Regions from separate parts of the Homo sapiens genome. Here region 1 is linked to region 2. The links come from fine-mapping of genetic effects on plasma protein levels. A gene starts in region 2. The other region holds a variant in brackets. All regions are shown on one strand. Distances are from middle to middle. Region 1 overlaps LUZP2 (leucine zipper protein 2). Region 2 holds the start of LUZP2 (leucine zipper protein 2).

Evidence for each region. A credible set is the group of variants that fine-mapping cannot tell apart. PIP is the posterior inclusion probability: the model's chance that the variant is causal. The UK Biobank Pharma Proteomics Project read protein levels with antibody pairs (Olink). The fine-mapping took linkage between variants from a reference panel, not from the people measured, so its PIPs are less certain.
Region 1: its variant is the best candidate, but not a certain one, in a credible set for the plasma level of the LUZP2 protein (UK Biobank, PIP 0.69).

Annotation. Positions count from the first base shown.
Region 1 is chr11:25,051,919-25,057,305 of GRCh38, reverse strand. All of the region lies in intron 10 of LUZP2 (leucine zipper protein 2), which reads right to left. Among named protein-coding and RNA genes, the nearest start is that of LINC02699, 400 kb to the left of the region's middle. The variant G/C (reference allele first, on the strand shown) is at 2,188.
Region 2 is chr11:24,494,853-24,500,239 of GRCh38, reverse strand. It overlaps LUZP2 (leucine zipper protein 2), which reads right to left and starts at 3,187. Exons shown (of 12, transcript NM_001009909.4): 1 at 2,935-3,187. The coding sequence starts at 2,996.

The sequences.
Region 1 (5,387 bases), 560 kb before region 2:
GGCAGGAAGTGGAACAAAGCAACAAAGATATCTAAAAATAAGCATGTTTTATAATTCCAAGTTTGATTCTTAGGCCACAGAATATTTTGAGACTTTGAGTATTAAAACTTCAGAGCTGCTTCTTAAAAGGAGCTAATAAGGATATCTATGATATGGTTGAATGTGACATATTTAATATCTATATATTTATATAATAATCATAATAAACCTGCAATAAATGAACAACAAAATTTCTCAAAGTGCAGTGGCACGATCTCAGCTGACTGCAACCTCTGCCTCCCAGGTTCAAGTGATTGTCCTGCCTCAGCCTCTCCAGTAGCTGGGATTACAGGCGCCTGCCACCACGCCCAGCTAATTTTTTGTATTTTTAGTAGAGATGGGGTTTCACCATGTTAGCCAGGATGGTCTCGATCTCCTGACCTCGTGATCTGCCCACCTTGGGCTCCCAAAGCGCCGGGATTACAGGCATGAGCCACGGCGCCCGGCAATTTCTCAAAGTGTTTAACATGAAATATTGACAGAAGAAAATCTACGTGGGATTATTACAATAATACACATTCCTGGGCTCTTTACCTGACCAACGGATTAATAATACATGGGAATGGATCTTGAGCATAAGCAGTTTTACCAGTTGACTTGGTGATTCTTAGTATGCTAAAATTTGAAAAATCTTCATCTACCTTATATTGATAAAGGGATCTGAATACAAAGTCCCTTCCCAGAGCGACAATGTTAGGAAACAGCAAAGTCAATATACACATCTAGGTTTTATGTAATTCCCATGCTTTCTCTTCTGTTACTCAGTCTCAGGTATGACCAACAGGAATCAAAATGCATAATCTTTCTTATCTATTTACTGAGAGACTGCATGGGGTCCTATCAGCTGTCAGGGTGGTGAGGTTGCTGATAATTATAGAATCCTGAAATTGAAAGAGATGCTAACATGATCAGTCTGTCCTCCACACAAATGCCTCAATTCCTGACTATATTCCAGAATGGCTGTTTTTCATTATTCTATTATATATTATAGTACTTCCGCCAACTGCTAATTCTAGTTTCAGATACTTTTCATTAAGAGTTCATTTTTATATTTGACTAAAATATTATTCTTCCTATAGCTGTTTCTACTAGCTGCATCTGGTTCTGCTGTGTAAAGTAGCACTGAATAAGGCTACTCACTATAAATACATTACAAATACAATTACAGTATTTAAGGTTGCTTTGCTCATATTTTAAGTTTTTTCATTTGATAAATTAATTAAAGTATATAATTCAAAATACTTATTGAGGTTTTTTGTGAGAGGCATAGCTTTCATAAGGGAATGGAAAGTAGTAATTATTGAGAGCTTGCTGTGCTAGTCATATGCTAACTGTTAAGCTGGGCTATCTCACTGGATCCTTTGGATGAGTTATATTAAGCAACAGATATTTATCTCTCTTTTTCAGAGGAGAAAAAACAGTCTTAAAAGGGTTAAATATTCATGATTACACAGCTGGAAACTGGTTGAAACATAAATTAACACAAACCTTCAATTCTAACTTTTTTCTTCAGCCTTCTATCTCAAGCATTAGAAAACACTTTCCATTCGTCATTGTTGAACCTCAGAGTGTTATTTCTAAAATGAGGCAGAATTTATCGGTCTAGACTGATAAGCGAAATTAGATAAGAGATGTGTCTCCTTTATTCTGGATGTAGCATCGTAACTGCTTAAAATCAACACTGCAACTACCTATAGGTGGTGTGCAAATCTCATCACAGTTTTAACTCAGAGCTCACAGTCAGTTAAAACTCCTCAATCTGATAGATCAATATACAAAAATTACTTGCATTTATATATATAGCAATTAACAATCTGGAAATGCAATTAAAATACTACATTTGCAATACTATGAAAAAGAGAAAAGTACTTAAGAAAAATAAAGACAAAAGAAATGCAAGACTTGTACCCTGAAAAACTATCAAACATTGCTGAAAGAAATTTTAAAAGATTAAAGTAGGCCAGGCACAGTGGCTTACGCCTGTAATCCCAGCACTTTGGGAGGCTAAGGCGGGTGGATCACAAGGTCAAGAGATCGAGACCATCCTGGCCAGCATGGTGAAAGCCCGTCTCTACTAAAAATACAAAAATTAGCTGGTCATGGTGGCAGGCACCTGTAGTCCCAGCTACTCAGGAGGCTGAGGCAGGA[G/C]AATCGCTTGAACCCAGGAGGCAGAGGTTGCAGTGAGCCGAGATCGCGCCAGGGCACTCCAGCCTGGTGACACAGCGAGACTCCGCCTCGAAAAAAAAAAAAAAAAAGAAAAGAAAAAAAGATTTAAGAAAATGGAGAGACATTCCATGTTTATGGATTGAAAAAAAAACAGTATTATTAAGACAATGTTTTGGTCTTATTATTTGCAAAGAAATGTAAGGGACTCAGAATAGCCAATACAATCTTGAAAAGGAACAACAAAGTCACAGTACTTTAAATTGTAGACTTCAAAACTGATTGTAAAGCTACAGTAACCAAGGATACCTGTATAAAAACATCTCATGTTTTTATCTCATCCCATAAATATATACACCTACTATGGTAACCACTAAAATTAAAAATAAAAATCAAAACAAGAAAATACGGTATTAGCATAAGGATAAATCAATTAAAAAATTGAAAGATGAGAAATGAACTCATGTTTGTGTCAGTTATTTTTTGACAAAGATACTAAAGAAGTTCAATTAAAAAAAGATATTCTTTAAAAATGTGTTATAAAGACTAGGACAACTGAATAACAACATGCAAATAATAAATGCAAAACCTTACCTAACACCATCCACAGACACACACAAAAAATTGAAGAATATTGATCTAAATGTAAGAAATAAAAGCACACACGTTATATGAGAAACCATAAGAAAAAAAATCAGTGTGCTTAAACAGGTGAATAATTCTTTAGATATATCAAAAGCATGAAGAATAAAATGATGAGTTGAACTTTATTGAAAATAAAAGCTTGTGTGTTTCAGAAGACACAAATTAGGACTTCAGGTTCTGCTCTGACACATAAAGGTCTTGGAAGTCTCCACTTCCACCTTCACAACAAGCAAAAAGCTGAACAGACTGATAATCAATAATTTTTCTTAGATGTATCAAAGAATTAATGTTACAGAAAAACTACCACCCCAAAAACTGGTGAGACCGTGAATACAGAGAACACAGACAAGCTACCTAAGTGAAAGCTGCTGGAGCCAGTAGTTGATGGGAATATTTATGTAATATCTTTAATAAATTTCTGGAGGCCGAATATGGACTAGCATGAAATACAAAAACTCCAAGAGGCTTAGTTTAAGGTAAGGTGAGCCCTCATTACTGAGAATTTTACCTTTCTGAGAACCATGAGGTTTTAATGGTGAAGATGGGAGAATAGAGAAGCACCACTCATGTTTGTTCAAAGGGGGAAAGAATGTACCAATTTTTCAATATAAGCATAAACTTATCATCAAACCCAGCAATTCTACATCTTGGTGCCTACTCAACAGAGATTAAAACATTGCCATACAAAGTGGTTTATGCAAACGTTCATAGCATCATTTTTTCATAATAGCTACAAATTAAAAATAATCCAAAAGACAGCAATTGGTGAATGGATAAAGAAATGTGGTACACCACACAATAAAATGGTTTTCAGCAATAAAAAGGTACAAACAAATACAAAAAGAAACCATGTTTTTGGTTGCCTGAGGCTTAGTGTGGGGATGAGGACTCATTGTATTAAAAAAAAAAAAAAAAAGGCATGTGGGATCATATTAGGGAGATGAAAATGTTCTGAAACTGGATTACAGTCCTGGACTCAGCAAATGGGATGAATGATTGAAACATACACTTATATGGGTGAATTTTTATGGTATGTAAGTTATATCTCAATAAAGCTTTTTTAAAATTATATATTTCAAAAATAATTAGCTTCATTGTGCCTTTCACCCATTCTAATTATTAACAGAGTACCAATCTCTTCTGTTCAGAAGTAAATAGAAAAAAGTTAACCAAAAATATCTCCTACTCTAGTTTTCTTTCTTGATAATGATGATGTAATTATTTAAGCCAATAAAACATACATTTGGGGCTCATGTTACACTTCATCTTTATACCTACATCTTCATTTGATCACAGAATCCTGGGGCTCTCTCTTTGAAACAGACTTTTCATTGTTTGTTCCCAATTGTTTCTGTGATTGCCTAGATTCAGGTTCCTATTTACTCTCTCTTTAATTATTTTTAAAATTTGCTGATTCAGTGGTTTTTGGATTTCTGAATTCATTACAACTGAAAATCAAGTTAAAACAAGAAATAGGAATAAAGTTACTATCAATTTTATTAAGGACATTAAAAACAAAGTAAAACTACATTATATCCTACTTTTTGTCCTTGTTAAAAACTAAATAGCATTCATTCAATATCTGATTAAAGGAAAGTCATATAAAGGCATAGGTTAAGATCCTAAAACACACCCCAAAATAGACAAAATATAAAGGTAGAAATGTGATAAAGAATTTTATTTTGTGATTTAAAAAAATGAAATTAAGTTCTGCCTTCTTATTCAGTTTGGACACTCAATAAAGCAACCCAAATTGCAGCTTAAGTCTCTAGACTGGTAGTCAGTATTTTGATACTGCTACATTAAAATGGAAGCAATACATTTCACAATATTTAATGCAAATCAGAATATTATGGCTAAATTTATACAAGGCAAAAAACAGTCTCTCTAGTTTTATTTATTAAAAATTTCCAGATGAATTGCTCAGAATCTGACTTTCTAAAAGCTCCCCAGAGGGTTCTTATGAATGGGAAATCTATTATTAGTGAAAAATGACCTACATATTTGAATCATCTGGATGAATCAAAAAATTAACACAACTAATGTCTAGACCTTACCTACTGAGGTGCTGAGGTAATTTTTCTGCAATGGGTTGTGGGCATCAGTATTTTGTAAGTACTCTTCGGTTGACACTATTCTGGAGACAGAGCTAAGAAGTACTGGTCTAGAACTTGAAAACTGATGTTCATGCATGTCCCACTAATTCCGATTACTCACACCTGGTTTATGTCACTCATTGTATTACTTTCTTCATTATTATCTATAATTGAATCTGCAGGCTCTGAATACTGAGCACTCTATGTACTAAAAGGTGTAGCTTCTTAGGAGTAGAGACTCCAATACAAAAGTCTAGAGGACAGAAGTCAGGTTAGTGAAATAACATTTATATTTGTTCTGGTGGAGGCAGCTTTTTGAAGAGCCCCAGGTCCAGACTGAGACCAGAAACAGATAGTATCTGCTTCTGGAACTCACTGAGGACAGAAGAGTTATCCCTGACAAAGGAGAACAACACAAGTAGAAGAGAGAAACAAATAACATAT
Region 2 (5,387 bases):
TAAAACTCTATGGGGTTTACCAGTAAAACAGAGAAAAATGCTTGGCTTTTGTGTAAATTGAACATTTAGCTTTCTTTCAGGACAAATACATTAACTCTGATTGGGGGCCATTGATGTTCACTGTGATTAAATTATGGGATTTTGTGCTTCAGCATCTAAAGTTGCTTCAGAAAAGGTGAGAAGGAGGAACAAGCAAAAAGAGAAAGCTATTCAAAAATGTCTATTTAAAAGGCAGGATTGTTTTCTATTCAAAAATTTCTGTTTAAAAGACAGGATAGTCGCTGTGGGCTAGATACCATTAGACCTGTTCACAACACAGTCAAAAGACTACCTTTTCACCTGCAGCATTTGTTTCACTGAACAGATTACTTTAAAATAGAACTGAACTTCAGACCTATTGGAAATAAAATAGCAAAGTATTAAGGCAATGCACTCAGAGAAAGATATAATGAAACAAATATATATATATATTTGCATTAAGAGTCTCCGCTCTGCATTCCCTACACTTTGGAAAGAGTTTGACAATAAAAGACAGGTGAGATTACCCAAAGGCTATAGGAAAAACTAGCAATTACCACCACCTGCTAATGCATCCAGCGTGATCTAAACATGTGAAATACCATTTGCTTCACATACAGGACTACTGACTAAGAAACTAAGTTAACAGAAGTCTTTGGCCAGAAAACCCACTGTCCCAGGTGGCCATGGCTGAGCTACTCAGCTTTTCCCAGCAGGACAATAAGCTCATCCCTACTAACACAACTGTCCTTTCAAAGCTGCTCAGTTTAGGTTCTAATCTGCACAATAACCATGTGCCTATAAGAACTGTTAAATATTATACACAGAATGGCCTTCTGTTAGAGATCTTTAAAACATATTCTCTTCTTTGCAAAATGACACTGATAGTACCGCATTGCTTTTCATATTTGTTCAATATCACAGGGTATTCTGGGTATCCAGTAAAATGAATTCCTACAGAGTAATCACATTAATAAGATATGCTACTTATTATAAATATTTCATCTTTTTCAAGCCCAGCATTCTCTTCTGGTAAAATTTAATAACCATAGTTTTCACATACCACAAGCATTGCAGAAGTTTCAAAGCTAAAGTGAAATAGATGATTATTCCAGTTTTTGTTGTAATAAGTGTGTTAACTATTTTTAAAGAAATTTATCCCTATCAAAATCAACACTTTCATGAAAGGAAAAGATAATGGCTTTTTGACCCTGTATTAGATATCGAACATTAAATCTTTGGACGCTAGAGACTATAGAGCTTTTTCATTCAATTTAATTATAGTATCCTTAAAAAGCAAATGTACTTTTGGAACTCTAGAGATGTTCACAGTCTAAAATCACTGTGGGCTGGATTTCTATTGTTTAAATATTTCCTATTATTTATGCATGTGTTGACTGTCATCTACTTAAGTGTCCAAAGTTAGAAAATTTCCTTTCTCTAGAAGACTAAATCACAACATAAGAGTGAATGGCAAGAATTTAAAGAATAACTGTGATGCATAATTTGTATTGAACTGTTGAGAGCTAACCACAAATATTAAAATGGGCTCTGTATTTAGAGCAACTAATTATAATACTGGGAAGCAAACTGGTTTTCTTTAAAACCATCTGCACTTTATGAGCTGAAGTGACAAGCAAACCTTACAGAAAATGAAGAATCAAACTTACATTTCATTTTAATCTGGGAAAGTCACCTGGGCTTTGTTTGCAAGGAAAGACTAAATTTATCAATTATTGAGGGTAAATGAAATAGTCTCTACACTAAAAGGAAAGTTTGGTTACACAGGCCTGAAAGAAGGTGTGTAGATTAGGAACGGAATCAAGAATTTTACAGCCTTGATTTGTAAGACAGAGTAAGTTTTCTTCATCCTTTTCCATTTCAGAATTAGAAACAACCCTATATCCCTACTTTATTTGCCATCAGATGCACAATCAAATAATGTTTCTATTCACGTAGACTTGAAAGGATCTTCATCCTGTGTGGGTTATTTTATTTTATAGTAGCCAAGGGAAAGAGGTTGCTGCCAATATGATGCTAAGGGCATGCAGAATAAAGACAGTCCTGGGCAACTAAACAGTCCACCTTTGTGCTGCGCTTGTGGAAGAAAAAAGCAAACCCATCACAACTTTGGGACTTGATCAACAGTGGGGAGTCACAAAACTCTTCTCAATCTCTGCATTTTAAATCTCCACCAAAAATAGCTCCTCTGTAATGGGGCTTAAAGTCCCATCCATGGCCAGTGATGGAGTACAGTACTTAATTGTTTCTGACTAGGGTCTCTGCATCAGCACTCTGAGAGTGTCTTCTAACTTTTAATCGCCTTCTGTGCTCTTTAATTAGACCTGTTCACAAGACAGTCAAAAGAAAACGCCTATCACTAAGCTTATCCAAGACGTTGAAACATGCCATTTCAGGAGTCCAGGAACTTTTGTACAAGTCTTAGCATCTTCCAGGATTAATCTGTTTTCTCTGGTTTCCTCTTCCTTAAATCAGGCACACTTGGGGGAAGGGAGAAGCTCTATGGTTATTAAGACAACTCCAATGTAAAGACACTGCCTGGTGGCAATTCCCTCCTTGCCTATTTCCGTTCTTTATTTTGTTCTTTTACCGCGTGTTACCTTTTGGCTACTAATAGGACCGGAGGGTAAAATGTCTTTTCTCTCCTTCGGAAGAGAAAGCTTTTGATCCCTCACTGAGAGCAATCCTAAGACTTTCTCCAGGGGGCTGGGATAACTAGGAAAGGGCTCTGCTCTCTCAGAAGGATTTCAGAGCCCAAACCATACAGCGTCCCTCTTGCTTAGGCGGGAGATGCAAACAGCTGAAGTGCCTTGGCCCCCACTGGTGACCCACAGTAGGACCAACCTCGCCCCGGCAGCGCCCCTGGCCTCAGGTCACTCACGCTCCTGGACTCACCTGGTGCTGAGGACCAGCGCAGGCAGGAGAGGCAGCAGGTAGTGCGCTGGGCTGAATTTCATGCTGCTGCCTGCCGGGGTCCTCCTTCCCTCGCTGCCTTCTCTCTCTCTCTTCGGGATCCTGTCGCTCCTTGGTGCCCGGCTCTGTCCCCAGCCAGTGATGAGCGCTCTTCCGAGGCGGAAAGGCGGAGACGGGCACACGAACGGACGCCTGGGGAAGGCAGGCGCTGGGAGCGAGGAGTATCTTCAGGAGTGATGTCACCGGCGAGGCGAGCCCTGCCGGGGATTGTTCGGCGCCGCCGCTCCGGAGCCCGGAGGGCGCGCCGTCACTCGCGCTGGAGGCGGCGCGGGGAGAGGGAGGGGGCGCCTCGCGATCGCCCCGTGCGCTTCGGTCACCGGGCTGCGCTCTGGTCAGTCGGGTGAGCACTGGCCAGGGGCGGATCATTTATTCCCGCTGCTCCCCAGGATGGCGCGGGGCGGGGCACGGAGAGTAGAAACCTAATCTGCCGATAATTGAACTTGCGTACTCGGCAGGAGATGAGACCCAATTCACTGGGAGAGACTTCCAGACGCGTAGGGTCCTAGGCAGGTGTCTCTCGCCGCTTAAACCGTGTTTGGAAGAACGTCGCTCTGGAGAGAGTGTTTAGAAGATTGTTCTAATTAGAACTGCATAATGATTTGCCTGAAACAGATGGAAGGAAGCGGGAGTAAGCAGCGTCCAGAAATGCAACCTCAGCCCGTCATGGCATTGCAATCTTCTTAACCCGTGAATGTTGACTGCAAAGAACCAAAGAACGTTTCGGGACCGTTAAGACATCTGCTGCTCTGGGTTTTGAAGATTTCTGATCTTCCTCTGATTTCAGTCGTCTGTACCAGCACCTGCCAATGGGGTTGGACCTGGTGGCTCAAGTTCACACACCTGAAGGAGTCCTTTTCCTCAGGTGAAACTCATCAAGGAGACCTAGCGGACAAAAACCATTAAAATGTTAACAGTAATCAGCTCGGAATGATGGTACTGGAAGGTAGAGGTTTTGTAGGTCATTTGGTTTTCTATATTTTCAAATGTTCTATCATAAGCATCCAATATTTAATAGGCTCTATTTAGAAATTTTAATTAGAAAAATTAAATAGCACAATTATAATCCAAAACACCATTTTGCAAAAGCAATTCTGAGAAACAGAACTACTATCTCTGCTACTGAGATATTCAATTCTAGGATATTTATAAGATGATATTGCATGTGTGTGTGTGTGTGTGTGTGTGTGTGTGTGTGTGTGAGTGAGAGTGAGAGAGAGAGAGAGAGAGAGAATGAGAATTCCATCTGGATATTATCCTGGTTATATAACTGTGTATAAGGCACTTCTTCATACAGTATTTAATTTAATCTTCACAAGAGCCATCCTAGTGAAATAGACGTTAATATCACTATTATAGATATGAGCAGACTGAATATCATCAAAATCTGACTATGCATATTAAAAAAAAGAACTGGTTCTACTAAGTCCTAAGAAAAATTCCACTGTTGCCTCAAACATCACAACTAGCACTCCTAGCCCAGTGTTTGACACAAAGTTGTGTTCAGTAAAGGGTGAGGTGCACCAAAGTCCCGAAAGATAATGGACAGCTGTGTCCAGGAATTCCTATCTAGAGGTTTCAGTTCATGTTCCAATTATTTCGGGGGCAAGCTCTTTACAGAAAAATTTAGATGATACATCCTCTTCAATCTCATTTTCGAAGACATTTGTAGGAAAAATGCATTTGCTGTAAAGCTTTATTTTAAAGAGGATGCAAATCTAAAAGGTTAACCATCTAATTTACTATTTTTTTTAAATGGGATTGAAGGTTAAGACATGTATGTAAAACAGATTTGCTTCAAAATCTTGAGCTGCTGAACTAGATGAGTAATAAGTTTTGAAAAGTGAATATTAGCCCCTTGGGCAATAATAATAAGATCCACAACATTATCGATCTTGTATATGCCTAATAAGTAGGCATATACAAATAAACTAACATGTGAATTGCATATCATTTAAGAGAAAAAAACGACACCACACTTTTCTAAAACAGAACTCTGATTCCAAGTAAAATAAAAACTCTGGTTTGCTCCTGCCAGGGTTTTCTAACATAGATTCCCTGCTCACTTTGAAGGAGATTACTTGAGTTGTATACTCAACAAAGACATAAGGCTACTTGGCAATTTTTTTAATGTGTGCACCAGGAAATAACACTCATATTTGTAGAATACATTTTTTATATAACAACTTTGCATCCATTATCTTACGTCCTAATCATAGAAACCAAATGTGGTAGTTATTTCTAGTATTTTTCTCTTTTCCAGTTAAGGTGACAGTTTCAGAGTAGTTAAGTAACTTGCTCAAGGTCACTCAGAGACTTATATAGTGGCGATGGCATTCAAATTCAGTCTGCATTACTTCAAAATGTATGCTTATTTG